7 linked regions of the Homo sapiens genome follow. The protein of the gene in region 1 interacts with the protein of each later gene in a biochemical or structural test. Each region holds a gene or a part of one and is shown in the gene's direction. Other genes may lie near its edges. The genes, in order: UNC93A, HTRA3, MAGI1, SNTG2, GRID2IP, TJP1 and LDB3.

The links.
Region 2: the proteins of UNC93A (region 1) and HTRA3 interact in a test that uses a peptide from one of them, tested with the Homo sapiens proteins (one large-scale study listed by IntAct).
Region 3: the proteins of UNC93A (region 1) and MAGI1 interact in a test that uses a peptide from one of them, tested with the Homo sapiens proteins (one large-scale study listed by IntAct).
Region 4: the proteins of UNC93A (region 1) and SNTG2 interact in a test that uses a peptide from one of them, tested with the Homo sapiens proteins (one large-scale study listed by IntAct).
Region 5: the proteins of UNC93A (region 1) and GRID2IP interact in a test that uses a peptide from one of them, tested with the Homo sapiens proteins (one large-scale study listed by IntAct).
Region 6: the proteins of UNC93A (region 1) and TJP1 interact in a test that uses a peptide from one of them, tested with the Homo sapiens proteins (one large-scale study listed by IntAct).
Region 7: the proteins of UNC93A (region 1) and LDB3 interact in a test that uses a peptide from one of them, tested with the Homo sapiens proteins (one large-scale study listed by IntAct).

Annotation. Positions count from the first base shown.
Region 1 is NC_000006.12:167,297,505-167,301,761, forward strand, and holds part of UNC93A (protein unc-93 homolog A), read left to right. Parts: intron 1-440; coding exon 441-566; intron 567-4,257.
Region 2 is NC_000004.12:8,272,754-8,276,253, forward strand, and holds part of HTRA3 (serine protease HTRA3 isoform 1 precursor), read left to right. Parts: intron 1-3,500. UniProt on the Homo sapiens protein: Serine protease that cleaves beta-casein/CSN2 as well as several extracellular matrix (ECM) proteoglycans such as decorin/DCN, biglycan/BGN and fibronectin/FN1.
Region 3 is NC_000003.12:65,381,022-65,385,278, reverse strand, and holds part of MAGI1 (membrane-associated guanylate kinase, WW and PDZ domain-containing protein 1), read left to right. Parts: intron 1-1,655; coding exon 1,656-1,747; intron 1,748-3,209; coding exon 3,210-3,402; intron 3,403-4,152; exon of another isoform or gene 4,153-4,230; intron 4,231-4,257. UniProt on the Homo sapiens protein: Plays a role in coupling actin fibers to cell junctions in endothelial cells, via its interaction with AMOTL2 and CDH5. May regulate acid-induced ASIC3 currents by modulating its expression at the cell surface.
Region 4 is NC_000002.12:1,264,852-1,269,108, forward strand, and holds part of SNTG2 (gamma-2-syntrophin), read left to right. Parts: intron 1-2,513; coding exon 2,514-2,720; intron 2,721-3,220; coding exon of another isoform or gene 3,221-3,244; exon of another isoform or gene 3,245-4,257. UniProt on the Homo sapiens protein: Adapter protein that binds to and probably organizes the subcellular localization of a variety of proteins. May link various receptors to the actin cytoskeleton and the dystrophin glycoprotein complex.
Region 5 is NC_000007.14:6,544,444-6,548,700, reverse strand, and holds part of GRID2IP (delphilin), read left to right. Parts: intron 1-4,257.
Region 6 is NC_000015.10:29,713,983-29,718,239, reverse strand, and holds part of TJP1 (tight junction protein 1), read left to right. Parts: intron 1-121; coding exon 122-219; intron 220-1,401; coding exon 1,402-1,629; intron 1,630-4,257. UniProt on the Homo sapiens protein: TJP1, TJP2, and TJP3 are closely related scaffolding proteins that link tight junction (TJ) transmembrane proteins such as claudins, junctional adhesion molecules, and occludin to the actin cytoskeleton.
Region 7 is NC_000010.11:86,682,011-86,686,267, forward strand, and holds part of LDB3 (LIM domain-binding protein 3), read left to right. Parts: intron 1-3,667; coding exon of another isoform or gene 3,668-3,690; intron 3,691-4,257. UniProt on the Homo sapiens protein: May function as an adapter in striated muscle to couple protein kinase C-mediated signaling via its LIM domains to the cytoskeleton.

The DNA of each region.
Region 1 (4,257 bases):
AACAGAAAAGTTATGAAATCACCTGCCCAAAGTCATTGAGTTGGTAACAGATGAATCTGAAAGAGAATCCAGCATTCCTGGCACCCAATCTCATGTACTTTTTTCTTTTTGACTAATTTTGAAAACTTGAAAAATTTTAATTATGTCAGAAAAGCAGTAAAACAAGTAACCAGCACTTTTCCAAGTTCATTCTTCCCTGAATCTTTGCAGAACACGAATAGGATTTTCCACCTCCCAAAGTGTCTTAAATCGAGTCTAGGGACATGTGCCTAGACTCGATCTAAATCTATTTTGAGACACTGGGTCTTTCCACGTGACCTGTAGTGATGCCTCCCCCCAGGTGTCCAATGTCCTTTCCACTGTCACTTTGATTTCTCAAGAACCTACATCTTGTCACATTTGCCGTCATCTCATGTCTCCTGTCCACTCTGACTTCATAGAGACCCTTCCAGAAGAGCAGCTCACGTCCTGTGGGGCCAGTGACTGCCTGATGGCCACCACAACCACCAACAGCACCCAGAGGCCCTCCCAGCAGCTGGTCTACACCCTCCTGGGCATCTACACTGGTACGAGCTCCATCGGCCCAGGGCAGGGTCCCTAGCAAAGCAGAGCCAAGCCTCCTTCCTGGGCTGACAAAGACTGTCTCTCCCAATGTAAAAGTAATCTCTCTTCTTCTGAAATATCCTTGCAAAATGTATTGGTCTGGATTATATGCAGGCGGTGTTCTTATGAATCAAATGCAGTACACCCGTGCTGTCTAACAGAGGATCCTGGGGTGATGAGATTGTTATACATCTCCAGAGCCCAACACAGCAGCCATTAAGCACTGTGGTTGTTTACATCTTAACTGATTAAAGTTTCAGTTCCTAAGTCTCCCAGCCACACTGCAAGTGCTCAGCAGTACGGGGGCTGGCGGCTACCATTACAGACAGCTTGGTGGCTGGCTAGGGCACTGGGATTGACTGTTTGTGTTTCAGCTGTGGCCAAGGGGCCCTGAACATCCATAATTGCTATAAGCCACTTTTTTTTTTTTTTCTGAGAAATGTGCTGAGTACCTTCTGTGGAAAGGCTAGAGGGGCGAGTGCTCCCAAGTGCTTGTTGCACCTTAGCTGGAGACGTTGCAAGCTCATGGTGAAAGGGCTGCCCAAAGGAAGTTAATTGTCATGACGAGGCTCATTCTTAGAAGTTCATTTTAATAGAGAATGTTATGTAATAGTTTCATATGTGACTTCAGTGTTATAGTCAAAGGTTTATTACAACTTTGAAGGGGATACATTTAGAGAGTTTTAAAAACCATTTTGTAAATAATTTAAATATTTTTTTTTTTGGCTGGGCATGGTGGCTCACACCTGTAATCTCAGCACTTTGGGAGGCTGAGGCGGGCAGATCACTTGAGGTCAGGAGTTCGAGACCAGCCTGGCCAACATGGTGAAACCCCATTTGCACTAAAAATACAAAAATTAGCTGAGCGAGCATGGTGGCATATGCCTGTTATCCCAGCTACTCGGGGGGCTGAGGCAGGAGAATCACTTGAACCCGGGAGGTGGAGGTTGCAGTGAGCCAAGATCGCGCTGCTGCACTCCAGCCTGGGCAACAGAGCGAGACTCCATCTCAAAAAAAAAAAAATACACACACACACACACACACATATTTATATATGCATGTACATATACATATACACGTATATATTTCTATATGTATATATATATATATATATTCTTTGTCATTCTTGGATTTGGGGATTCATAAAGGCCTTGGAATGGGTCCTTCTTAAAGATCAAAGGCCTGGCACCTGTGAGCTCTGGGGGTACCAACTCCTGCACTCTGCCGGGGTCAGAGGTGAGGAGGGTTCGTGGGCACTGCAGAGCTTTTCCTCATGCTGAGATGATGTGCGGCACCAACCTCAGGTCCCCTCAGGCCACTTCCACATCAGAGGCTCTGAGTGAGCACTTGTAAAGCTATCGCTGGAAGTCGACAAAGTGTACTGAGCACGTGCTAGGCCATGCTAGGCCTTCTTGGTCCAGACATTCAGATGACTAGAAGCTCGCCTTTAGTAAGCTGAGAGCCTAGTGAAGGAGGCAGACACACACCCAACTAACCGAGACCAGTCCGACAGTGTTCTGAGCACAGTTCCCAGCTGACTTGCAGCTGCATCTCCCTGGAGCACGGAGTTTCAGGAAAGCCTCCAAGGGCGGGTGGTCCCTAAGCCGAGTCTGGACAATGAGCAAGATTTGGCCAGGCAGGGAAGTGATGCTGAAGTCCCTGGAGGCGAGATGTCCAGGAAGAGCCCGCAGGGCTGGGGGCAAGGTGGAGGGGCAGAAATGGGGCACAAGACTAGCTGTGGCCCTTGATGTTGTGCCAAAGGGTCTGGACGAGTGCAGACTTGCCTTCTTGACAGACCCCATGCCAGCGTGACTTAGAGGTGCAGAGAGACAGCGGGCAGAGACCCACTGAGGACGGAGTGCTGAGTCCAGAGGAGGGAGCAGGTACGGGGAGGCAGAGATGGAGGGGCTGAGAGAGAGGCCAGCAGGGTCCGTGTGGGTTGGACATGGTGTGGGGAAGAGAAGACAGCCCTGGGGTTGACAGGAAGATGAGCTCAGGCCGGGAACACCTGGCTTGAGGACGCAGTGGGACTCTTGCATAGTGTCCAGTGGGCAGTCTGACGCCGTGCAGGGCTCAGGCCAGAGGCCAATGCAAGTGTGGACGTGGAGGCATCTTCCAACATGGTGACTGGAATCATGTCAGGGATGAGGCTCTTAGGGAGAAAAAGCAGAGGGAATTGTTACAGAGAAGGGAGTATAGCTGGACCCCTGGTTCAGCAACACTGAGGGCCAGGCAGACAACTGGAGCCTTGGAAGGAGACAGAAAACCAAACCAGGGTCTTGGAGGACACCAGGGTTGTAGAATCAGCTGGGGAGGGGGTTTGAGAGTGTTGAGTGTGGCAGGGCCCCTAGGAGGCTCAGGGGGGAGGCTGGACGAGGCTCTTAGCCAGTGAGAGGCTGTTGATGCCCATCAGGCGAGCAACCTGGGGAGGGTGCTCGTGTGCAAGGCCCAGACTGAGGGTTTCAGAAGTGAGTGGAAGGTGTGGACAGGGAGTCAGGAGGAGCCACGGTTTTCTCTGGTCTGCAAGTCTCTGCTGACTTGGAATTGTGGTCATGTTTTCCCAGCAGGCCCCAAGGTTCCCATCAACATGGTCCCAGGGACCAGCCAGGCCTGTGCTTCCCCAACACTTCCCCTCACCACCTCCTCTACATAACTAGGAGGCTGGGGGACTCGGGGACATTGAGCTGAGTCAAGACCATCAGGTCTCCTTCCAGCTCCACAAATTCCAGTTAGGCAGCCACCAACAAAGACTTCTCCTATCTATAAAAGAACAGAATTTTGGAGTGGGGGCTGCAGCCTTCCTCTGTGAAGGGCTGACAGCAAATATTCCTACATGTAAGTATCTTTCTGAGGATCATATGGTCCTTGTTGCAATTGTTCAACATTGTCTTTGTAATGGGAAAAAGCCATAGACAACATGTAAGCAAATGAGCATGCCTGCATGCCAATAAAACTTTATTTTCAAAAGCAGGCAGTGGGCAGGCTTTGGCCCGCAGGCCATAGTTTGCTGGCCCCTGCTCTAGAGGAACAGCACAGGCTTCTCTGTGGCTTCCAGGCCCTTCATTGCCAGCTGTCCTCCGCAGGTGGCTGTTGTCTGTGGAACCTCCCCTGCAGGGTTACCCCCAGTGTGCTCTCTGGCCACAGCCCCATCTCGGTTCACGGAATCCCGCAGCCTAAGGGAGTCCAAGTCTAGAAGTTATGTAGAGCAGAGATCACACACATGTAAATGAAGAAGTGGTCTTACTATTGTGATTGTAACAGTCCTGCAGGATCCTGTGTGTGTCCTTTTCTATAAAGCAAGACCATGTCTCCATAAAGAAAAACATAGGAAGAGAGAAAAATGGACCTAAAAGAACAAGAACACCCTCTCCCTGGGTAACTTTCCTGGGTTTCTGAGCATTGCATTCATAGTCAAGTTTCTTGCAAAGAGCCATTCTCTTTAGAATTTAGGACACAGCTGTGCAGCATCCCCCAATTCATGCCCCACAGAAGGCTCTGAGTCACATGACACCCGGACATACATAATTCTGAACAAAGGGGTGTGGCTTCTGTGTTCATAACCTGCCTCTCCCCTTCCCACAAGGCTTTCGGGGAGATTGTAGGTTGTGTCCTATTGGGCTGCTTGACACTGAAGTCCTGGCCCACAAGACGAGA
Region 2 (3,500 bases), on another chromosome or scaffold:
CAGAGACCTGCACAGGACCCGAGAGCCCTGTCGCCACCAGAGCCCACGGAGCCAGGTGGGGAAATGGGGCCTGGTGGGGAGGGGAGGCAGAGAGTGCAGGTGGGAGGCTGCTGGCCATCTCCAGGGCGCCGTTCACACTGTGGGCGGTGTGCAGCCCTGCCACTGTAGCCCGGTGCACGGGGACCTTGGACAGCCAGCTTTCGGCAGGGCGACACGCAGAGTCCACTCCCTGTGGAGGCCTTGGGTGCCCGGCCTCTCCCCAGCCCTGTCTCATTTCCCACGGCAAGCCTGGTCCTTTCCCAGGCACCACAGATGTGCTGCTGGAGGCCAGGAAGGGTGAGGGACTGCTCTGAGGTCACATGGTCAGGAAGTGACCCGGCTGGGCCTGGCCTGGGTCTGGCTGGCTTTGCAGGCTATGCTCTGTGGGCCTCCTGGCTTTTCCTCTGCAAGGGGTGGCAGGGCCCCTGAGGCTGGGAGTCGGGTCAGGCCTGGGCCCCCGGCTCCATCAGGCTCAGCCTCCATGGAGTATTCCAGCAGCGTAGCCGGCTTCTGCCCTCCCGAGGTCCCAGCCAGAAGTTGCTGGGTGCCGGTCACACTTAGTGGTGTGCCAGGCGCTGCCGGGCATTTCTGGGAGGAAGTCCTGCCTGATGAGGGCAGCCTCCTGTGGGCTGAGGTTCCTTGTGCTCTCCTCTCCCCTCCCCATGTCAGCTCCTCCGCCTTCTCCCACCCTCTAGGCAGGAAGGTCTCCTTGGTCCCTTCTCGCCACCCTCCCCCCCGCACCCCCGCCCCAGTAAGCTCATCTGCCATGAAGTCCTCCCCAGGTGCTGGGACTTCGGGCCCTATCTCCAGCCCCCGGGTCTCTCCTGAGTTAGAGTCACGTGGAGATGCCTGCTGAGCCGCCTCGGGCTCTACTCTTCCCAGCCCCACTGAAAGGAGCACCACGATGTTCAGTGGGGAGCCTCGATCCCCTCCGTCCCTCCGCCCCTCATTCCCCTCTTCCCCTCACTCCCCTCAATGCCTGCTGCACTGTCACAGTGGCTCATCAGTTTGGGACTTGGTGTGGGGGTACCTTTCCTGGGCCTGCCCATTGCAGCCCAGCTGTGTGGATGGGGGCCCTTACTCCTCTCCACCCCTCATTCCTCTCTGCCTCTCACTCCCCTCCACCCCTCATTCTCCTGTGCACCGGGAGTCCCCTCAGCTCATCCACAAAACATCTCCTGGGGCGCTCTGACTTCCCCCTCCATCCTCCCTTCCATCACTTCTCACACAGCAGCCAGGATCACCTTGGTCAATCTGTCCTGCCCATGACCTGCAGGCTTCCTTGCAAGGCACCCCAGCACTTACCTTGACTCACAGGGCCCTGTGCCTGCCACCTGGCCCGCATCACCCTCGGTGCCGTCTCCCACTGTCCCCTCATCCCCTGTGCTCTGGCCTCATGGCCTCACCGGTCTCTTTCCCACCTCGAGGCCTTTGCACGCAATGTGCCCACTGCCCGGCGTTTCCTTCCCTTGCCTTAGCGTGGTGGGTTCCTCATCCTGCCTTCACCCGGATGTCCCACCGCCCCTGAGCCACCTGCCCTGGCCACTGTGCCCAGGTCATCCTTCATTGCTTGGTGAGCACACCCAGGGTCTCCGGTGGGCCCTGCACACAGATGTGACTGTGGGTCAATTTCTCTGCGTGATCCCCATCTCCTCCAGGCTCGAAGCCTCGCCGGGCAGGGGCCTGGGCCAGTGCGTGGCCTCTGTAGATGACACGAAATGAGACGAGGGCCCATGTGATGTGTGAATCTCCTCTAACCCTCTGGGCCCTTCTTGCATCCCTCCAGTGACAGAGGCTCACCACTTCTCAGGGGAACCCTCGCATCTTCTCAGGTCCATGTTAAGGCATCGCAGTTGCACAGAGTGGATAAATGTCCATCCACGGGATGGTAAAAGCAGGGATAAATGCGTTTCTGAGGGCCTGTGTGGAGAAGGGTTTCCCTTTGCGCGTAACCAGAGCTCTGAGGCCATGCAGCCTCTCCTCTGGCTGCAGATAAACAGGCCTTGGAGCCTGCCATGCGCTCAGAATGTAGAGCCCCAGAGCAGTTTACAAGGTGGCATTTAATCACCGGCTTTTATTGTGCAACCCCAAGCAGGTTCTGATGGCATCTCCCGGTTGTATTTATTGAAGAACTTGGGTTGGCTTTTGATTTGTAATCCTCTTAGCAGCTTCCTGGGGCTGCACATGCCTTGGAGTTCAGCATCTGGGACCACTCAGGCAAGATGACGCCTCCCCTCCTGCCCCGCCCACTCCCGCTGGGGCTGCAGTGCTGAGCCACAGCATCTGGCGGCACTGGAGGACTTGGAACTGCCGGCAGAGCTGCTTGGCCAAGAGCTTTCGCCAAGGCTGCCAGGAGCCAGGAGTCCAGCCGGACTGGAGCTGAGACCAGGGCGCTGTGCAGCTGCCCTTCCTGCCGGGGCTTGGCCTAGCAAATGCACCCTCACCCCATCTGCCATCCTGTGGTCTTCCCCCGACAGGCCTCTGCCCTCCCATGCAGCCCCACACAGCAGCCTGAAGGGACTTGGCGAGACCCGGACCCTCCCTGCCGAAAGCTGGGCCATGGCTCCCACGGCCTCAGGACTAAGCATAGCCTCCTGGCAGGCTCGCAGGCTTGGTGACCCCAACCACTGCCTCCTGCCCACATCACCACAGCCGCAGACCCCTGTGAAACCCCCATCCTGCATTGTGAGGGACCAATGACAATGCATGGAGCCCAGAAGAGGAAGAAACCACCTTCAGAGTGGAGAGAGGGCTAGATCAGGAGGGCTTTCTGGAGATGGGGGCGTCTAGTTGTGGAGAGGTGGGTACAAGGGGGCCTGTGCACCCTTGGCCTCCCACAGGCTCACCAGGGCCTGCCAGGTGGTCTGAACACCTTCCGCCCAGGCTTGCTTTGAGGGAGGGAGGCCACCAGGTTTCACAAGGGTGAACGGTGTGACACTGGGCACTGTTCCAGGCCCACAAAGCCTTCAACACATCATTGGGGTATTGATGTCCTGGTCCTGTATGAGAAAGGGTTCAGGGAGCTGTAGGAAGCTGCCCTCGGTCACTCAGGTAGGGATGGATGGTTCTGCCCTGAGCCCAGGTCCCCTGGTTCCCCAGCCAGTGCTCTGAATACCAGGCAGGCCCCTAGCAGCTCGAAGTGTCTGCCTTGTTTGGTTTTGATGAGGGTGTTTGTGGACTAATGGGTGGGACAGGGTTTAAAATCATAGACCGCTGTCCTTGGTGCAGCAAAGATATGGCGAGGACACGTCCATATGTTCCCCAAGCTGAAAGCCAGGTCTAGTGCAGGGGTAGCAGGTGACTCCCTGGAATTGTGCAATGTACAGCCTGCCCACCTGTGTGCATTACCCTGCTCCAGCACATAATGGGCAGAGCACCAGGACTGGGACCCAGTTCTGTCCCTCATGTCTGGCTGCTCAGGGTGGAGTCCCAGCTCTGCCCCAGAAGTCTCTGAAGCTCTT
Region 3 (4,257 bases), on another chromosome or scaffold:
GAATTAAATAGAAATAACTCTTTTACTTTAGTGAAGTAACAGAGTGGTGTATAGAACAATTTCATGTATAGTAAGTATTTTCTTATGGAAATTGCATTTGTTTTAAAAAACAAGATATTCATTTTAAAGCCCTGGACCATTGCTGAGTATTGAAAGTAAAATATCAGGTTACTGGAAAATGAATTAATACTTTTAATGCTGAAATATCATAGGCAAATTCTAGAGTAAAGCAGTCATTTTGGCAATGAGATATATGATTCATTAACATAGACTTTTTGTCATCACCATTGATCTTAAGGATTTGGAGGCCTGGCTGATTTTGGTAATAGTATTGAAATCCTAATAAAATTTGTACAGTCACCCCTCAGTGTCTGCTGGGGATTGGTTTCAGGACACCCGCATCCCCCACCAAGGATATAAAAATCCATGGATGCTTAAATCCCTAGAAAATAGCCTAATATTTGTGTGTAACACACACACACACACACACACACACACCCCTTCCTATATTATTTATTTGTTTGTTTGTTGTTTGTTTATTTATTTGAGACAGGGTCTTACTCTGTCACCCAGGCTGGAGTGCACTGGGGCAATCATGGCTCACTGCAGTCTCAACCTCCCTGGCTCAAGTGATTCTCCCACCTCAGCTCCCGAATAGCTAGGAGTACAGGCACACACCACCATACCTGGCTCATTTTTTATTTTTTGTAGAGACAAGGTCTCACTATGTTGCCCAGACTTGAATGCCTGGGCTCAAGCGATTCGCCTGCCTTGGCCTCCCAAAGTGCTGGGAGTGCCACTGTGAGCCACTGCACCCCACCTCCTATATACTTTAAATCATCTCTACATTACTTATGACATCTAATACAATGCAAATGCCATGTAAATAGTTGTGATACTGTATTACTTAGGGAATAACGAGAAGAAAAAAATCTGTACGTATTCATCACAGCTAAAACCATTGTAGGTCTAACAAATTTTCTATCTGTGATTGGTTGAATCTAAGGATGCAGAACCCACAGATATGGAGGACTGACTGTATGCAGAAATACTAGGATGTTTTAGAGTAATTTTTGGCAAAAATGATCTAACAAAGCCTATTAGCATTGCTAGCCTTAATTATTTTAAGGAAGAAGAAAGTGACTTAAAGATAAATCAGAAAGTCTGTTTAAACCAAGCTGTTCTCTTTCATCCTCTAGTAGAGGAAACATCTGGTGACTTAACATGACTTCCGAATCCTTAGATCTGGCTTCAGAGGTGACTCTGACTTAGCCTGAGTGTTCTTGGACATGGACACCTGCTTTGTGGTGTGGCACATAATAATTTTAATTTACTTAATTCTCCTTGCAAGAATACTGAGGAAAGCAGTTAATGCTGACTATTTGTAGTTAAGGATCATGGCTTGGGCTTGATTCGGAATTATCAAACAGTGATGGGTCCTGTGAAGAACTTTAGGGCTCAGTGACTATTCCCACTGTTTATCCCCGTGTCTTCCATTATTTCACCTGTTCAGAGTATTTTGTTTCTTTGCCTATATTGAAAATCTTCCATCTGATCAAGCACCACCATTCTTGTCCTGCAACTGTGTTCATCTTGGGGGTATCATTGCTTTTATCAGTAAAATAATCCTTCTCTTTTTTCTCCCCTCTCTGCAGTTCCAGATTACCAGGAACAGGACATCTTCCTCTGGAGAAAAGAGACTGGATTTGGATTTAGGATTCTGGGTGGAAATGAACCAGGGGAACCTGTGAGTCTTTTGCTTGTCTCTCTTCCCAGCATATTTTTCTAAGGCTTCAAAGCAAATTGGCGACAGTGACAAATCACCAAGATTTAAGTCCAGCTAGATGCAACACTGACTCTTTAATCTTGAGTAGTGTGGGTTTCTCATTGGGTTTTGTGGAGCTCTCTTTGTCTTGAGGAAGAAGAGACTAGATTCTTTCTAAAAAGTTTGTATGAGTGTTTGTGAAAGGTGGGAGCTGCCTCTGTAGACCACCCCTTTTCCCCCAAGGGAGATGAAAACAGAAAGCAAAACAGGAATAGGCATCACCTAATATCACAGTGGCCTGGTCCTTCTGGCCAGGTCCCTTCACTCTGCCAGCAGGTAGTAGGCTTTGTATGTTGAGTTGCTGGTGTGCAGAGAGTACTTCGCAAAGCCTTATGAGACAGTGATTGGAGAATGTCAGACCCCTGCCTTTACAAAACTTGAGAAAGAACCCTGAGTAAGGGTCAAGAAACATTGAACTTCCCTGGGCCTCAGTGTCCTCCATTTTGGAATAAATTTAGAATAACATAACAGGGTTCCTTTGAAGGAAGAAAAGAAAACTGAAATAGGTATCGTTAATTTCCTTGTGGTAATAACAGCCATTATTCATCGAGCGCTTACTATGTGCCAGGTTCTGTGCTAAAGGCTCTTAACATACATTCTCTCATTTATCCGTCAAACCCACCAGTTTATCCCGTTTTCACATCAAGGAAAAGAAAGGCTAACTAACTTGCCCAAGATCGCAGAGCTACCAAATGGAGGGACTGACAAATAAGGTCTGACTCGAGTTCATGTTCTTAGCAACTATTTTGTCAAAGTTCTTTGTAAACTATAAATGCCACGTAAAGGTAGCTATAGCATTATTGTCTGCTGGAAAGGCAAGGCAGGCACAAATATTTTAGCTAAGGTTTAGTGAATGGCAAATATAACAGCAAGACACTAACTATAAAGAGTGCTCTGCTTTCGGGTGCTAAAAGACTTCAAAAATGGAGATGTCCAACCAACTTTTGCTTCATTCATTCATTTAAGAGTATTTATTACAGATTCCCTATTCCTAGGCATGATGCTAGACCCTTAAATAAAAGTAATATTAATATTTTAATTAGCAGAGTTTTATGGAAAGAGAGTTTTTAGGTAGCTACCAAAGAAGAATAGGGTATATAATGAAGGGAGAAAAGTAATTTATATCTGCAAAGGGGAAAAAGAGAGTGAGTCATCAATAGGCCACAGATAAACATCTGGAAACTAAGCAAGAAATACTCTTTCCACCATTTAAGAATTGTTGCAGTGCTTAGCACAATGTCTTGTACACAGTGGGTGCTCAATAAATGTTTGCGGCATGCCTGCAGACATGAATGAATGAATTGTTCCCAGAGATGTGAAGGCTATTGATGTAACAGTAAACATAGGAGAGCAATGTTTCATCCATCGTTCAATTACTCAACAGATTTATATTGGTCACATCGTACCACTGGGTGCTGCTGATACTGACGGCCGCCTGAGGTCTGGAGATGAATTAATCTGTGTGGATGGGACGCCAGTAATTGGAAAATCACACCAGCTTGTGGTCCAGCTTATGCAACAAGCTGCCAAGCAAGGCCACGTCAATCTCACGGTGCGGCGTAAAGTGGTTTTTGCGGGTATGTATTTCATTCATTCCTTCAGACAGTGCGTTGTCACTTTATTCACAGAAAAGGCCTCCTTCCTGTGTCTGCCTCCTTGAGCGTCTATTTTAGCAAATGTTTGCAAATGTGATCAAGCTCAGAATTTCCAGATGGCTTGCTTCTCTCAAACCCTGCAAAAATTACTGTCATTCTAAAGTACTTTAATGTGCCGTTTGCATGTGTTCAACAAAGGCTTCCAGAGGAAGGCTAGTTGAATATATATTACTTCCCTTCTATCTCCTTGCAAATCAGAACTTAGCCATCCTCTTCATTTGATGCTAATCCTCAGCAAATGAGGTCATTATGAAAGTCAGAAGAGTTGTAGCTTCATATCAAGGGAACAAAAATCGGGTTTGTGCTACAAAATAAGCTCATAAAAAAGTTACTGATTTCTTACTGTCCTATGTATTAAACCAAGATTTTTTTTTTTTCTTTCTACAAGAAAGTTGTAGAGCTGGCCAGTTCTAGGTCAGCTTTGATTCCTTCTTCCTGCCCATAAGCTTTGAACTTTAATTCTCAAAATACTACATATCCTTTCAGGCTCAGCTCAAATATAACTTTCTTCCCTTGGAAATTCCTCCTTCCTCCAACTGCCTTCAGATTTTAGCATTCCCTCCTTGCCATTCTAGTGACTCATGGTTTACTGCTGTATCAGAATCTGCCATTTTGAGACAGTGAATTGTGTGAGTGTTTGTCCTTTCCCTTGAAAGCTCACGTTGAACACACCTTGGTTGTTCACCTTTGGATGCAGCTCCCACCTTGAAACCTTTAAGGCAGAACCCAGAGTGCAGCAGAGGTGATTGTCTTCTATCAGTGGAATTACTGGAGAAA
Region 4 (4,257 bases), on another chromosome or scaffold:
TGCCTGAATTCACTTATTCTATTCTAAGAATGTAGTATATTATACGTATAACATACAGAATATGTGTTAATTGACTGTTCATGTTATTAGTAAAGCTTCTGATCAACAATAGACTACTAGTAGTTAAGTTTTAGGGGAGTCAAAAGTTATGCATGAATCTTCAACTGCGTGAGAGTTGGCGCCCCTAACCCCTGGGTTGTTCAAGGCCCAACTATAATGAGCCATTCAATGGGGGATGTGCGTTCCCACATAAATATCTTCCAAAAGTTTTTCTTTATCAGTTTTGACATTTAAGTTCAGTGGATAAAGAGATACTTTCTGCACCATAAGGTCAATGATGAACATGTTGTTCTTGGTTTGTGACGTGTAACCCTATAGGTTCCAGGTATCCCAGCTGAAGGAGACGATCCAGAGGGCCCCAGAATTAAAGTGCAGTTTCTGTACTCAAGGCTCATTTAGGGTTAGCAACGTATGCACACTACACACATTCACGTACACACACATTCATGTTCACATACATTTCCACACATACACATGTTCATGTGTGCACACACATTCTCATGTGCACACATACACACACACATGTTCTCACGTGCACACACCACAAGGCATTTGATGTCTGGATGATGCACAGGGATAAATGTGCAATGCTCTCCATGATCAGAGGGTCATCCTGCAGAGCCATCTGCGGGGCCAGGAGAGCCAGGGCATCCCCCCGGAGAGTCCAGAAGGCCCACCTGAGACACACCAGTCGTAGCTTTTACCTCAAACCTGTGCCTAGAGTGCATGTGTCAGCATATTTCAAGTAAAACTATTTGGCCAACTGCTGAGTTCATGTGGATTTTGGGACTGGACCTTGAGCGTAAGTGTGAGTGGGGACTGTCCAGCTTGGCTGGTTGGCACAAGTGAATGGAGATATCTCAGAATCATGATGGGAAGACCCAGCAGGTGGGCAGCTCCCCTTCCTTTCTGCTGCCATATGCAGGGCTGTGGGTGAACACCACATTCTCATTCAGGACTTTGGAAACCCCAGCCCAGGTGTCTCCCCTTGTTTCCCTTCACTGGGGAGAGACTGGTGCAGCAAAATTGATGTTGGGGTGCAGCGTCCCAGGAAGGTGTCTGGTGGGGGCTCTTCAGGGTGGATCTGTGGACCAGTAAATGAATGGGTGAGCTGAGAACTGAGGTGGGTCCAGAGAGAGACAGACAGAGACAGAGAGAAGGATAGAGAGAGACAGAGAAACAGACATAAAATAGAGAAACAGAATGACAGAAATGGAGAGAGAGAAAGAGACACAAAGAGAGACAGAGACATAGAAATGGAGACAGAGAGAGAGAGAGAGACAGACAGAGACAGAGAGGTGCCAGCCAGGTATTGAGTGCGCGTTCACCATGCACCTCCATGCTGTTGACCTAGTAATTGTGACAACTGGGACCCCCAGTCTTTCTCTTCTGCCCTTGATAAAATGAATCCCGAAGTGGGGTGCAACCTTGCAGATGGGGGAAAGAAGTGGGGAGCTCCCCAGGCTGCTCCATGCAGCACAGGCTGGCAGCATCCGAATCGCCGAGTGATTAATAGACGTGCTGTAAGTAACTTACATCTCTGGGTTAAACGATTAACCAGAAATGGAACAACATCATTACATCATTCCCTTTGTCAGGCCTTTGGGTTGGCAGAATGAGCTCCTGGGTGGCCGGGTGCCTTGTCATGCTTCAGAGGCGTTTTGGGCACTCGGTCCTTTATCTCAGGACAATGAACCCGCAAGGAGAGGAAGAGCCAGTAATTCTATAGAGACTCGGAGGCGCAGGGGGCACGCTTAGTTAGAGTGGTGGTGGTATTTTCAGTGTTTTCTGGTTTTATGATAAACACAAGCATCAATGTCTCAAGACTTTCATCTTTATCTTTTTTTTTTTTTTCTTGAGACAGGGTTTCCCTCTGTCACCCAGGCTGGAGTGCATTGGTGGTGTGATCTTGGCTTTCTGTAACCTCGGGCTTCTGGGCTCAAGCCGTTCTACTACCTCAGCCTCCCAAATAGCTAGAACTACAAGCGTGTGCTGCCACACCTGGCTAATTTGTTGTATTTTATTTATTCATTTATTTTTGTGAAGACAAGGTCTTGCCATGTTGCCCAGGCTGGTCTCAGACTCCTGGGCTCAAGCAATCCACCCACCTTAGTCTCCCAAAGTGCTGGGATTACAGGCGTGAGCCACCACACCCAGCTTCATCTTTCTCTTCACCGTAAAACAGGAAAGTGTGTGGTGACCAGTATTTTAAGGGAAAGGCACTTACAGAGAATTAAGCATTTGACAAAATTTATTTACAGATATTTGTCTGTGGACCACTTCCGCACCAGCTGTGCATGAGAGGGCTCATTGCTCTGAATTTGCCTCCTTGTCTGCACCCAGGAGACCGTTTCCCAGATCACGCAAACGCTGCCTTCTCCCCACACCAGGGCCCTCAGCATGGGAATGACCTTCCAGCGCTGCACGTTTCCAATCCATGCTCTGTTTTTCAGTTCTGGCTCACAGAGGACTGCTGGTTGCAAGCAAACTTGTATCTGGGTCTTCAAGATTTTGACTTTGAGGACCAGAGGCCCTATTGCTTCAGCATCGTGGCCGGCCATGGGAAGAGCCATGTTTTCAACGTGGAGCTTGGCAGCGAGCTGGCCATGTGGGAGAAGTCCTTCCAAAGAGCCACGTTCATGGAAGTTCAGAGAACCGGGGTAAGTGAACAACTCACACTCTTCTCACCTACACCTGCTCGGGTGTCTGAGACATAGCATTGGGGAATATGTAGCAGTTTATCGGGGGAAAAGAGGAATCTTCAGAAGGTGAGAATCTTTCACCGGAGCTACTGTGTGGAAATGATCGTTCGCACGGAGTCATGCGCTCCGTGGATAAATATGAGCTGTAGTGGAAGGGAAGGGGAGGAGAGGATTTTGTGTCTGTGTCTACATTGAATGTGAGGAACGGGCTGCATCGCTTTCCAGGAAGGGACTCCACCGATGTGGCGCTCAAGTTCCTGAGAAGTGATGACACTTCTAGCCTGTGCTCCGGGAGACAGAACACCTAGCTTACAAATGAGTATAATGTGTCGTGCAGTTACTTGGATGTTTGTAATATTTTAAGGCACTTTAATGGTTCTTCCTCTCAAACTTGATGGTCCGAAGGAGAATATAAAACAGCTTGTGTGTCTGAATTGCTTTTCTCTTCCTGACAACAGCAAATACATCACTCACAAATTTGAATGTATACCATGTGAAGGGATGAGGAAGAATGCATTATAATCCTCCTTATCCTAAATAGCGGGATGATCCTTCAGGGAGGATGTGTGCTGCAGGAATGAAGAGTGACAGGAGATAAATGAGGCAGCGCATCCCAGAGGAGCTCTGACTTCACACCAAAGTCCAGGGCTCCCGCCTGGCTGAGCGCGGAGAATGCTGAGTGTGAACTTAGTAACTAAAGATGGCTACTTCATTTAAATATACATATATACCTTGAATGTGAAACTATTCTGTGTTATTTATCTTTCATTCACGTTGTCAAAATGTATCCAGGCTCCTTGGCATGCCATCACAGAGCACGAAGCTTCCCTGTAACTAATGCACACTGAGATCTCTTAGTCCACAGAATGAAGTCACACCCAGATCTTCATAGAAACTGATGCCAATGTTTATTCTCATTTATCCCAGGCTGCTGTGATTTTCCCCTCAAATTGGGCACCCTAAATTGGAATTATGGTTGATTCCTGATGCTTAAAGTAACCTTTATATTTGAAGCATCCAATTCATTAACCATTATAGAACATTACATGCTGGAAAGAAAATTACTAAACATAGGATCCTTCATCTCAGGGACTTACTCAAATGTATAGTGGCATTTAGCCACTTAGAAACCATCAGCACTAAAGGTTCAAGTCGTTAAAAGGCAAAGTGAAAGAGCGTTTCTGGGACAAGGTGACCTTTCTGCTTGTTTTCTTTAGATGATAGCAGTAATCATTTTGCTTTCAACATAAATACCGGAGAAGTAGAGAGAATTCTCCATTCGCGTGTGTGTGCAGGGCTGCCCCACACCCTCTAGTGCCCCAGGGCCCATGCCTGGCTGAGCAGAGTCCCGGTGGCCATTCAGACTCATCTATGGGAAGGTGACAGGTTACAGGAGAAGATATCCTGAATAAGAGCAATCATAGAATTACAGTGTTGGAGGGAGGGTGAAAGGTTAGTAATTTCATCTAGTACCCAGATGTAGTGAAATGAATGT
Region 5 (4,257 bases), on another chromosome or scaffold:
CCAGCTATTTTTTTTTTCTGTATTCTTAGTAGAGATGGGGTTTCACCATATTGGTCAGGCTGGTCTTGAACTCCTGACCTCGTGATCCATCTGCTGCGGCCTCCCAGAGTGCTGGGATTACAGGCGTGAGCCACCGCATCTGGCCAACTTTTTTTACATTATTTTGATTTTTAATTTTTGTGGGTACCTAATACGTGTATATATTTATGGGGTATCTGAGATACTCTAATACAGGCATGCAATGTGAAATAAGCATGTCATGGAGAATGGGGTACCCATCCCCTCAAGCATTTATCTTTTGAGTTATAAACAATCCATCTACACCGTTTAAGTTTGTATTTATTTTTTTTGGAGCCAGAGTCTCGCTCTGTTGCCCAGGGAATACAGTGGTACGATCTCGGCTCACTGCAACCTCCGCCTCCCGGGTTTAAGCAATTCTCCTGGCTCAGCCTCCCAAGGAGCTGGGATTACAGGCCCCCACCACCATGCCTGGCTAATTTTTGTATTTATAGTAGAGACACGGTTTCACTATGTTGTCCAGGCTGGTCTTGAACTCCTGACCTCAGGAGATCTGCCTACCTCGGCCTTCCAAAAGTGCTGGAATTACAGGTGTGAGCTACTGCACCTGGCCTAAGTTATTTTAAAATGGACAATTAAGTTATTATTGGCTATAGTCACCCTGTTGTGTTATCAAGCTCACAGACTTTTCCTCCGTGGAAGGGAATCTGCTCAGTTCTGCCCCAGCAGCACTTGGCCATGGGGTTTGGGAGGTCAGGGAGCCTGGAAACTTTGTCGGAGTTTGACTATTGCAGAAATGCCTCCCAGCCCACTGCCCAGGCATCAGGTCCCCACCCACTCTGGCCTCCTTCAGTGCCCAAGCTTGGTCCAGTCCTAACCCCTTCCAAATTAACCCCCTCAGGAGTGTCTCCTCCATCATGTACCCTAGCCTGATCCCCTGAATGGGCTTTTCTGACCCTGAGTAGACCAGCCTCTGTGGCCAGATACACACACTCGCATACACACAGGACTCAACTCCAGCTTCCCTACATCACCAAAGTCCAGATCTTCCAAAGCTGTGACTTTCTTCCTGTACCCACAACAGGCTCTGCTGCTATAACAAACAAACCCAACATTTTTTATTGTTGTTGTTTTTGAGACAGGGTCTAGCTCTGTTGCCCAGATTGGAGTGCAGTGGTACAATCATAGCTCACTACAGCCTCCAACTCCTGGGCTCAAGTGATCCTCCTGCCTCAGCCTCTCTAGTAGCTGGGACCACAGGTGTGCACCACCACACCTGGCTGATTAAGAAAAAAAAAAAAGACTGGGGAGATGAGGTCTTGCTATGTTGCCCAGGCTAGTCTCAAACTCCTGGCCTCAAGCAATTCTCCTGCCTCAGCCTCCCAAAGTGCTGGGATTATAGGTGTGAGCCACTGTGCCTGACCCAAAATCAACAACTTAGTGCGTTTGCACTACAGAAGTTTACTTTTCACCCACAGAGTCCTCTAGGGGGTCAGTAGACTTTCTAGGGTGGCTTGATGTCCATACGAGGTCTCAGCATTTCAGACTCCTCCATCTCTATGTGAAGCTTCAGGGTTCCCTATGGAAGAGGAAGAGAGCTTGGAAAATTGTGCATCTCCTCTTAGAACAGCACCTGTCCTCAATGCTCATTGGGCAGAACTAGGTACACTGCTCCTCCCTAAGGATGCTGGGAAATGTAGTCTAATGTGTGTCCAGGAAAGAGGGAAGACCTAGAAATATTGGTGAGTGCGAGTAATGCCTGCTACAATCCCAGATCACCTGCCATGGAGCCAAAGGTCTATCCCAGACTCCATCTAATCCCTGCAGAGTTGGAAGGGGGCACGTTCAGAGCTCCAAACAGGGCAGGATGCAAGAGAAGACCTGCCCAGGAGCAGGGCTGGGCAGCAACCCGCTGAGGGTAGAATCCGACAGGCTGCCCAGGCCAGCTGCAGTGTGTTTTCTGGCAAGGAGGAACGGGGAAGTGGAGGATTTTGGTTAGGGCTCGCTGGGCACCCACAAAAGCTGAGAGTGAATCTCCAAAAATGACTTCCTCTGGAAGATGAAGGGCCTCCGTGGAGCCCAGTTGGTTTTCTATCTTTTTTTTTTTTTTTTTGAGACAGAGTTTCGCTCTTGTTGCCCAGGCTGGAGTGCAATGGCGTGATCTTGGCTCACTGCAACCTCCGCCTCCTGGGTTCAAGCAATTCTCCTGCCTCAGCCTCCCAAGAAGCTGGGATTACAGGCATGTACCACCACGCCCGGCTAATTTTGTATTTTTTTTAGTAGAGACAGGCCAGGCTTGGTGGCTTGGCTGGGCACGGTGGCTCACACCTGTAATCCCAGCACTTTGGGAGGCCGAGGCAGGCAGGTCACCTGAGGTCAGGAGTTCAAGTAGAGATGGGGTTTCACCATGTTGGTCAAGCTAGTCGCAAACTCCTGACCTCAGGTGATCCACCTGCCTCTGCCTTCCAAAGTGCTGGGATTACAGGCATGAGCCACTGCGCCAGACTGGTTGGTTTTCAATCACCAGCCCTCCAGTTCTCGCCTGCGCTTTCTGCCTGCCCCAGTTTTTCCTCCTTGAAGTGGCTGATATTTAATAGAAAATCCATTAGTGTCCCGTGATGATACCTCATGCTTAGATGTAGGCTGAGAACATCTGGGTAATAACTGACACCGAAACCGCACTGTAGCACGGGCCCCAGGAGGGAGGAACTATTTTTTCCTCTTTCTTACATAAAACATCTCTGCAGCCAGCCATGTTCTCCTTTGAATTGAGGTTGCTGCTGACTTTGATTTCCAAACTGGCAACCTTCCCCAGCACGGCGCGTGCGTGGGGAGGGGGCGGCTGGTGCTGCCAGCCTGGCCCACTCACAGGGAGGGAAACAGTGGTGAGCTGGGGCCTGCAGGAAGTGCAATGCAAGGCTGCTTTTTGATTCAGTCCCATCCACATTCTCTGAGTGCCTAATATGTGCCAGGCGCTGTGCTTGGGGCTGGACAAGCATGAGACCCCGGATCATCACACCTGGGTGGGGGAGACAGACGGTTACACAGACTCATGGTGCATCTGTGCTAGGATTCAGACGTGTACAGAACGTGGCCTCTGACTGGAAACCCTCGAAGCTTCCCGCTACTTCTCCTCCCCTTTTGGAATCATCTAGAAAGCGGGTGGATATACAGTTCCAGAGTTCAAGAGCGAGCTCTCGGCTGAAGATCGAGGTCTGAGAGTCACTGTCTGGGGTTCTTCGCCAGAGCTGGGTCGTGGAGAGCCTCAAGTGCAATAGTGAACTGCAGTGGCAAAGGGCAGTGGTACAGAAACAGCACGTGTAGACGGCTCCAGACTACAGAAGGGAGGAGAATGAGCAGCTTTCAGGATCAAAGGAGGATTGTCTTTTATTTATTTATTTATGGAGACAGGGTCTTGATCTGTCACCCAGGCTGGAGCTCAGTGGTGTGATCATGGCTTACTGCAGCCTTGATTTCCCGGGCACAAGAGATCCTCCTACCTCGGCCTCCCAAGTATCTGGTAGCTGGGAATACAAGCGTGCACCACCATATCTGGCTAACTTTTTACTTTTTCTTTTCTTTCTTTTTTTTCTTTTGAGATGGAGTCTGTCTCTGTCACCCAGGCTGGAGTGCAGTGGCGCGATCTCGGCTTACTGCAAGCTCCGCCTCCCGGGTTCACACCATTCTCCTGCCTCAGCCTCCCGAGTAGCTGGGACTACAGGCGCCCGCCATCACGCCCACCTGGCTAATTTTTTTTCTATTTTTAGTAGAGACGGGGTTTCACCGTGTCAGTTGGGATGGTCTCGATCTCCTGACCTTGTGATCCGCCTGCCTCGGCCTCCCAAAGTGCTGGGATTACAGGCATGAGCCACCGCGCCCGGCTGTCTTTCATTTTTTAGAGACAGGGTCTGGTTATGTTGCCCAGGCTGGTCTCCAACTCCTGGCCTCAAGTGATCCTCCCGCCTTGTCCTCCCAAAGCTCTGGGATTATAGGCATGAGCTGCTGTGCCCAGCTTGTTATTTATTTATTTATAGCCTGAGAGAGACTTGAACATTTATATAAGCTGCAGGGAATGGAGAAGTAGATATACTGAAAACCATGCAGGCCGGGCACAGTGGCTCACACCTGTAAACCCAGCACATTGGGAGGCTGAGGCGGGTGGATCACCTGAGGTCAGGAGCTCGAGACTGCCTGGCCAACATGGAGAAACCCTGTCTCTACTAAAAACACAAAACATTA
Region 6 (4,257 bases), on another chromosome or scaffold:
GCATGGGCACACCGTTTAAAAGGCTTCTTGGCTCTCCCCTCCGCCATTACATGATATCTATTCTGTTAATTATCTGTTCCTTAGGCATATTTGTCTTTTTTTTTTTTTTTTTTTTAAACAGCCTCCAGAAGTAGCATCTAAACCTTCAGGTGCTCCCATCATTGGTCCCAAACCCACTTCTCAGAATCAATTCAGTGAACATGACAAAACTCTGTACAGGTGAGTACACTTTGTGCTCTTTGTGGCATAGAACTGACCAGGAATTTAACCCTCTTAGTCAATAAGAAAACCTTTTACTGTGTTAGTAGAGGAGAGGTGTGAATAGGAGGAGTTTGTCCTTAAATAAAAACTATCAGCTCTCCTAAACAGTGATTCTAGGGGGAAAAAAAGTAGAACTTTATTTCTGACAAATCTGACAAATCTTTATACCTTTAGCAGACTTTCGGAAAGATATTCTCCAAGCAGATGATTAAATAAACATTTTTAAGCTCTGACATTTGTATTATGTTTTTTAGTTTTAAAAGTGCTTTTCGACATGTGAACTCTTAGTTTCCAGTGGTGAGGAAACAGACTCAGATTGGTTAAGATAACTAAATCATTTAGTGAGCATGCATAAGGTGCTTGCCCTTGTGCTAAGCACATCAGCATAATGAGGTGACACTGTTGTTGTTCTGCATTGTAGAGAGAGACACTGAGGCTGAGAGGGGCAAGTAGCTTACAAGACTTAGAGCTGGAAGAGAAACCTGGCCTGCTGCTCCTCAGCCTGAGCTTTTTCCCATGGCCTCATTGCACTGCCAATAAGTGACAGATTAGATTTGAATACAGCTCTTCTGATTTTGTTTTTTGACTGAATATATGTTTGCACTTAGGATAAAGAAGAGAACTGTCTAATATGAATTTACTTAATGACTTGCTTTCTTCCTCATCTGCTTTGTATGCCTTCTAGAACTTTAGACCATATAGAGTTATTTGTTCATATGAGAATCATTGAGATCCTGGACTGAGTTCTTAAAAATCCCTTTGAAAGTTCTTAAAGTCTATCATTTACTGTTCTTGACCTTGGTATATGTACTTCTCAAGATGTTCACTGTCTCGGTTACATTGCCCTTTGTCTTTCTGATTAACTACTTCTAACCTGCTGTTCCCTAATCATGTAATCGTTTAGCTTATTATATTGTGTTAAAGGACTCATGAGCCAGAAGGGGGCTGCCTTTTGAGTATACTCTGTGAGGACATGGGATTTGAAATATCCATTTTAACTGTTGGGACTGCTCAGATCCTCAGTAATCACAGCAGTTAGTAATTATTGACCTTTTAGTCAAGATAAGACTTACATATTCTACTTCCTTCATAACATTAATATTTAAAAAGGTGTTCCGTTTGTCATTCATTATCTGTTAGGATCCCAGAACCTCAAAAACCTCAACTGAAGCCACCTGAAGATATTGTTCGGTCCAATCATTATGACCCTGAAGAAGATGAAGAATATTATCGAAAACAGCTGTCATACTTTGACCGAAGAAGTTTTGAGAATAAGCCTCCTGCACACATTGCCGCCAGCCATCTCTCCGAGCCTGCAAAGCCAGCGCATTCTCAGAATCAATCAAATTTTTCTAGTTATTCTTCAAAGTAAGCTATTTCACCTGGCTTTTAAAAATAGGATGCAGCATATTAATCCCGTGCAGTTCAATATATTTTGAAGAAAAATAATTTAAGTGTAATATATGATTTCTGTAGGCTCTAGTGGTTCAGCATTGTACATACTTTTTAGTTCTGGGATGTGTGTTTTGTTTTTAAAGTCTGCTATTAGATGTACATAGTTTTTGCATTCACAAAGATGCTAACATCACAGGGTTTTGACGGAAGACAGTGTCAACCACAAGGACCCTCATCGATAGGTAATCATCAGTCTTCACTTCTGTACACACACCTAATGATGTCATGCTGGTTCTTTTTCTTTTCTGTTTTTATTTTTTAAATATAAATACAGATGTGAGGAGGATCCTGTTTGAGGGAAATACTGAAGAGGTTTTTTGTTTTTTGTTTTTGTAAGATTTCTGATCCAGTTTTACAGGTGAGGGAAAATGACAGGGCAGAGCTGGGACTGAACCCCAAGTTTCTTGACTCCCAGTCATCTTTTCCCTGTGCTTGCTGCTCCCCTCCGTTTACTCATCCCTGGGTTTCGTGTTGGTTTGTTCTCCTTTCTTGTGCCTGCGTGGGTTTGTGTCTCCTACTGGTTCTGTGTCTCTGGTTGAACCCTGACTGATAAGAGAATTTGGTACTGATAGTTGTGTCTAAGCCCACACGGGCACACAGGTAGATTCATACCTCAATAGAACAAAACCCACAAGAACAAAAACAGATGTGGATTTGTCAAAAGAAATTCATTTACACAGTTACAGGGGCTGGCTAAGCAAGTCCTATTTCAGAGGGCAGTTGGTCAGGAAGGGAAGATTTTGAGCTACTGGGGAGTGTGAGATCAGGGAAGGCCTAAATTCTCATTCAGAGGGCTCTGCTGATTAGGCCAGGCCCTCCCAAGACCATCTCCCCTCAACTGACTTGGGGACATTACACCTGAAAAATCCCTTCATGGCAGTACCTAGCCAGATTGACATATTAGAATTCATCACACATAGTATTGTGTCTATATTAAAAGCACCTAGATTTTTCCTTACTTAGTTGCGTGGGCTTGGGATTATCTTGGGAAATGACCTATTTGTCATTTACTATTGAGTGTAAATTGTTTTAGAACATACTTTAAAACCACTAACATTAAAACCTAATTTTAATTACCACTGCTTTTTTCTAAGACATCCTTTGTAGTGAAGACTTTTTTCACTGTCCTATATTTAAGGCTTTATGTTTACAGAAGAAAGCAGTTTATGAGAATCCAAATGCAAACTGAGAGTGCTGCAGTGGGGGTTGTATTAAATGCAAAACGTGTCTTGTACTAGTGTTGTGAACCACCCCTTAGCACAACACTAGAAAGGGGTTGTGGCATCTAGATGGTGTCTGGACTGAAGTGAGCTAGCACAATATAAACCCACACAGGTGCACAGCTGGGTTCATACCTCAACAGAACAAAACCCACAAGAACAAAAACAGATGTGGATTTGTCATTAGGAATTCATTTACATTTACAGTGTTACAGGAATTCATTTACACAGTTATCACAGTAACATCTAAATGGTGACTAGCCTAAAGTGAGCTAGGCACTGAGCCATAGGAGCTCACCTTTGGTAAGGCAGAAGGGTGTACCCTTTAGTTATTATTTTTACTAAACACCGTTAAACACATTCATTCCTGTCAGAAGAAGGCTCAGGTGTTTAGTTTAAAGATATCTCTTATTTATCGTTTTACATATTTGGTAAATAGAATACAACCTTAAAAAGATTATATGGCCAGGCGCAGTGGCTCGTGCCTGTAATCCCAGCACTTTGGGAGACCAAGGCAGGCTGATCATGAGGTCAGGAGATCGAGACCATCCTGGCTAACACGATGAAACCCCATCTCTACTAAAAATACAAAAAAATCAGCGGGGCGTGGTGGCGGGCTCCTATAGTCCCAGCTACTCGGGAGACTGAGGCAGGAGAATGGCGTGAACCCGGGAGACAGAGCTTGCAGTGAGCCGAGATCGTGCCACTGGACTCCAGCTTGGGCAACAGAGTGAGACTCTGTCTCAAAAAAAAAAAAAAAAAAAAAGGCTGGGCGCAGTGGCTCACGCCTGTACTCCCAGCACTTTGGGAGGCCGAGGTGGGTGGATCATGAGGTCAGGAGATCGAGACCATCCTGGCTAATATGGTGAAACCCTGTCTCTACTAAAAATACAAAAAATTACCTGGGCATGGTGGCAGGTGCCTGTAGTCCCAGCTACTCTGGAGGCTGAGGCAGGAGAATGGCATGAACCCGGGAGGCGGAGCTTGCAATGAGCCGAGATCGCGCCACTGCACTCCAGTCTGGGCGACAGAGCCAGACTCATCTCAAAAAAAAAAAGGAGTATATTTAGGTCTAAAAAGTAAGTTGTTTTGCCAGGGAATCAATCAAAATGCATGTTTGCTTTCTGTGTTAATTTGTTTTTCTAGAAAGAAGACTTAGCTTATTTGTGATGTATAACTTTAGGGTGTAGAACATTGCCTTGCATGCAGTAGGGGCTCAGTAATTGTTGAGTGAATGAAGCTCAAAACAGGGCATGGTATACTAGGTGCATCCACCACCCTTCTTTTCATTAACACAGCTCTGGAAGGAACCTGTATTACC
Region 7 (4,257 bases), on another chromosome or scaffold:
TCGGATTTTGCAGAGGAGGAAACTGAGGCTCAGAGAAGGTTAAGTCACAGTCCGTTTGTCCAGCTACCATGTGGCCGAGCCAGTCCTGAATTCAGGAGATTCTGACTTCCAACACTTTTTCACTAGGCCACTCCCCAGAACAGGACAGCACAGCCTGCAGCCTTCAAGAGCTATGCACAGGTCCCCACCCCTCTGGGAGCTCGGAGGCAGGAGCAGGGGAGCGTTCGAGAGGTGGAAAAGCGAGTTATCTGGGACTAGGAATAGTCTGGGAAGCTGCCTGGAGGAGGGAGCCCTTGAATTGTATATGGAGAGACTCTTTGGCAGTGGCGTGCAGGGAGCGGGTTTGCAGGAGTGACCTTGGCCAGGGTGGGGTGGCGAGGAAGCAGGACCCCAAGGAGAAAGGGGCTGTGCAGGAGAACAGCAGCCTCACCCCTAAGGTCTAGCTGGCGGGACTCTGGGAGCACAGCAGGTAAAAGGACATGGGACTGGGGCACTGTAGGGGGGAGGCAAAGGAACGGAGTCCCCACACTGGGCCTGTGTTAGCTCTGAGCCCTTCACGCTTGTTCTCTCACCCTAACTTCTACTCCCGCCCTGTGCAATTGGCATAGCCCTCTCCAGGCAGGGCAGGCTGAGTCAAGGCAGTAGAGCCTAGTGGTTCAGGGTTCCTCCTCCGAATCATGGAGGAATCACACTGTCCATGTCTCAGGGTTATTGGGAGGATAAAGGGCCCAACACTTGTAAAGCTCTGAGCTTTGTCTGTCACCCACTCACTGCATGACACCTGGTATCATCACTGCCTGGAGCCACCCAGAAGAGTCACAGTAGGAATCCGGTCAGTCTGGCCCAAGCCCATGCCCTTGCCTTTGCCCTTGCAGCAGAAGGCACCTGTGCCCCATCAGGTCACTGCTCCCTGTGGCCCTCAGCTTCCCCACCCCCCCAGCTCTTTCTAGAATCCTCAGTGAAGCTGATTTCTGGCACCACATGGCTTGCTTCCCTTACCCAAGGTGACAGAGCCATATATGCCCCCAGGGTTCCCCAGCAAAGGACTTTTGCCAGAAAACTCAGGGAATAGTAGAACAGAGATGACCTCCTTGTCCCGCATTTGTTGGGCTGGTAGGTCTTCCCGGTCCTTTTCAGGAACTGGCCTCAGGCAGAGAGGTCAGCCTCTGGTGGCCTGGGACTCCCAGGAGACCCACCTGCAATGATGATAATGTCTCCCCATACTGACCATGCACTCTGGCTATGGACCAGCTAACAGTCCACATGCCTTATCTCTCAGCAACACTCTCTAAAACAACTCTCTCTGCAACTCCAGAGGTGGGCATGATTTTCCCCATTTTATAGCTGGAAAATAGACGCTCAGAGAGAGCAAGTAATTTGCCCAAGGTCACACAGCTAGTAAGTGGCAGACAGAACTGGCATGCAGGTCTGCCTGACTCCACTTTGCATTGAGACAGGGACTTGCTGCCTGCTCAGGGAAGTGAGGGGCCAGGCCCACCTCTGCTTCCCATAGTGCCTAAGGTACTCTGCTGTCGGTGCAGGGGCTGCCCAGACCCTGATGAATGTGTAAATTATTTCTTGGTGCTCAGAGCAGCAGAGTCTGACGTTTCCTCCAAGGGATGGTGGGCTAGGGGAGGATGTGCAGTGGGTGCTTCATCCAAAGTAAAAGCTGATGCTGCTGTCTCAGGCAATGCCGGCAGGAAGGGCTGGAGCCTCTGACCTGGGCTGGCCTAGGGCAACCTCTGCTGGGCTGAGGCCACCACCTATGCTAAGTGGGTCAGCAACAGGGTCAGCAAGGGCTAATCCCCGTGCTTATCCATGGCACACTTCTCCCATGCTGAGCACCTTAGACTCATGACCCGTTCAGTCTGCACAACCCACCTGCGGGGTAGGCACTACCATCTCAAGAATTAGAATTAGGAAACAGGCTGGGACGGGTGGGTAATTTGCCCGGAGTCACAGTGCTAGGAAGAGGCAGGGTCACAACTTGAACTCTGTCCTGTCTGGCTCCAAAAAGAAGCCCCTTCCGCTACTCTCTCCTCTGGGCAACTTGCAGTGCAATTCTTTGGCACCTCGTATCCTCTTGGAAGGAGGAGAGAGAAACAGATGTGGTGCAAGGGCAGACGGGCATAGGCATCCCAGCAGCCCCCTTCTTCTCCTCCCTTCTGAGGCTGGCACTGAAGGGCAGTGCCCCTCAGGCCACTCAGTGCAAGGGCCCCTGGGCAGGTCTTACATCTTTGGCTCATCTTCCCCAAGACCCAGGCACTGGCTCCTCTCAGATGTGTCTGCTGCCACCATCCCGGCCCCAGGTCCTGGGTGGGAGAAGCTGAGCAGGAGGCAGGAATAAATGTCAAAGAAGGAGCAGGCTGCCAAGGGAGGGCAGAGGCAGCCCCCACCCCGCCAGGCCAACACTGCCCTCTGCAGGGGGCCCTGGGCTGGTCAGGGCAAGAGATGACCCTGCAGCTGTCAGCACTGGCCAAAAATGGAGAAGGAATGGAGCTCCGTGCTGGCCCTTTCCTAATATAGCTCCACTTGCAGCTATTTTGAGCCTGGGAGGATAGAGGGAATTTTATCAGTTCTGAGGCAGTGGCGGGCCTGGGGCAGAGCAGGGCCACTGTGCTGCTCCCTGGGACCGGGGACCACTGACTTGAGCCTGGCTTCCCAGGGTTTGGCTGCAAATGACCAGGGCCAGGCTGGCCGGGGCCCAAGCTCCCCCAGCTACAGCCCACACTGGGCAGATTCAAGAAGGTGGCAGAGTTTGGGGACAGAGCCCCCCACCTTCCACACTGTCTCCCTCACAGGCCCCCGACAGGGCTGCTGGCCACAGGGTCTGCCACTGCAGGGAATTTGCATTTAAAGAAACACAGGACAGACACTGCTTTCCCTACAGAGACCATGCTCTGGGAGGCTCACTCTCAGGTCAGAGTGAGAGGAAGGGGCCTCTCACTGTGCTGCCTCGGCTGTTGAGCTCACACTTCTCCCTGCGCCTGCTCGCTCCTCCATCCTGCCTCATTGCTGGCCCAAGGGGCCTTTAGGAGTGGCCCCTGGTGACTGTGCACCCCACTCCCCTATACCCCAAGAGGAGCAGCCAGAGCTGCCTGCGTCTCTTCTGGGAGGGAGAGGAGGTCAGGTTTGGGGGGGCATAGGAAACCCCGCGCACACCCTGCCTCCTTACCACTGCAATGCCTGCTCAGGACAGAATTCCAGAGCTGCCCCCACAAAACAGACTCTTAGTCCGGAGCTGCTGACAGGCAGGGAGGCCCCTGGGCCTCAGCCTTTTCCATAGCAGCCACAGCTGGTCCTGTCTCCACCCCTAGCTTCCACTCTGGGGTCTATAGCCAGGTTTGTATGTGGGGGATTCATGTATGCGGTACGAGTGCCCCTGAAGATAGACAAGAAAACCCTTCTTCTGGCAAAGCAGAGGGCACTGGGGACCCCTCAAGAGGGAAACATTGCTGTGTCAGTCTCTGAACCAAACCGAGGGTCCCAGTAGCTGTGATTCCCGGCTCTGAGTTCTCCCTCCTCACTCCTTGCTCTCCTCACCCATTGCGGTTTGGGCTGGTTCTGCCTCCACAATGACCAGGCTGATGATGGCCCCGGCGCTCAAACTGCCCCTGGTGGAGCCTCTCTCTGACCACCCTGTCTTCTTTGCCCTTTTCCTCCCCAGGTGGTAGTCAACTCTCCAGCCAAGTTAGTATCAAAGGACAGCATGTGTGTGCGCTTGCGTGCCAGCCCCAGCATGTGTCTGCGTGTGTCTGGCGTGGATAGAGTGTGCCTGCTGGCATGTGTACATGTATGTGCATATGTATGAGTGGGGTACACTTGTACCCCTGGGTGAGCCTGCATGTGTGAAGCTGGAGTAGAAGCATTTGGGGGTGGGAGTGGGGGCTCCATCCGATGGTTCTAATTTCATTCCCAATTTCCTGCTGCAGCAGCTGCTTAAGATGTGCCTGGGGTTGGTGACGGTGGCGGGCGCAGGGGGAGGGGGACACAGGCTGTGCTGCTGCTGGGCCTGTGTGAGCCTGAAGACCTTTCTGTCCTGGCGACCCCTCAGAAGGGCTGCACTGGATCTTGTCTGCCCGGGGAGCGCACCTATCCATTGGAGGGAAGAGCCTCCTGTGGGTAGAGGATGGCCAGCTACTCAGCAAACTGGACTTGAGGGGGCCTGGGCAGCTGGAGCCCTGCTCTGAGGAAGAAGCACATTCCCTGAAGCGTCTGGAAGATCAGAGCCCTGGGCCACCAAGGGGGTGGCCTGCA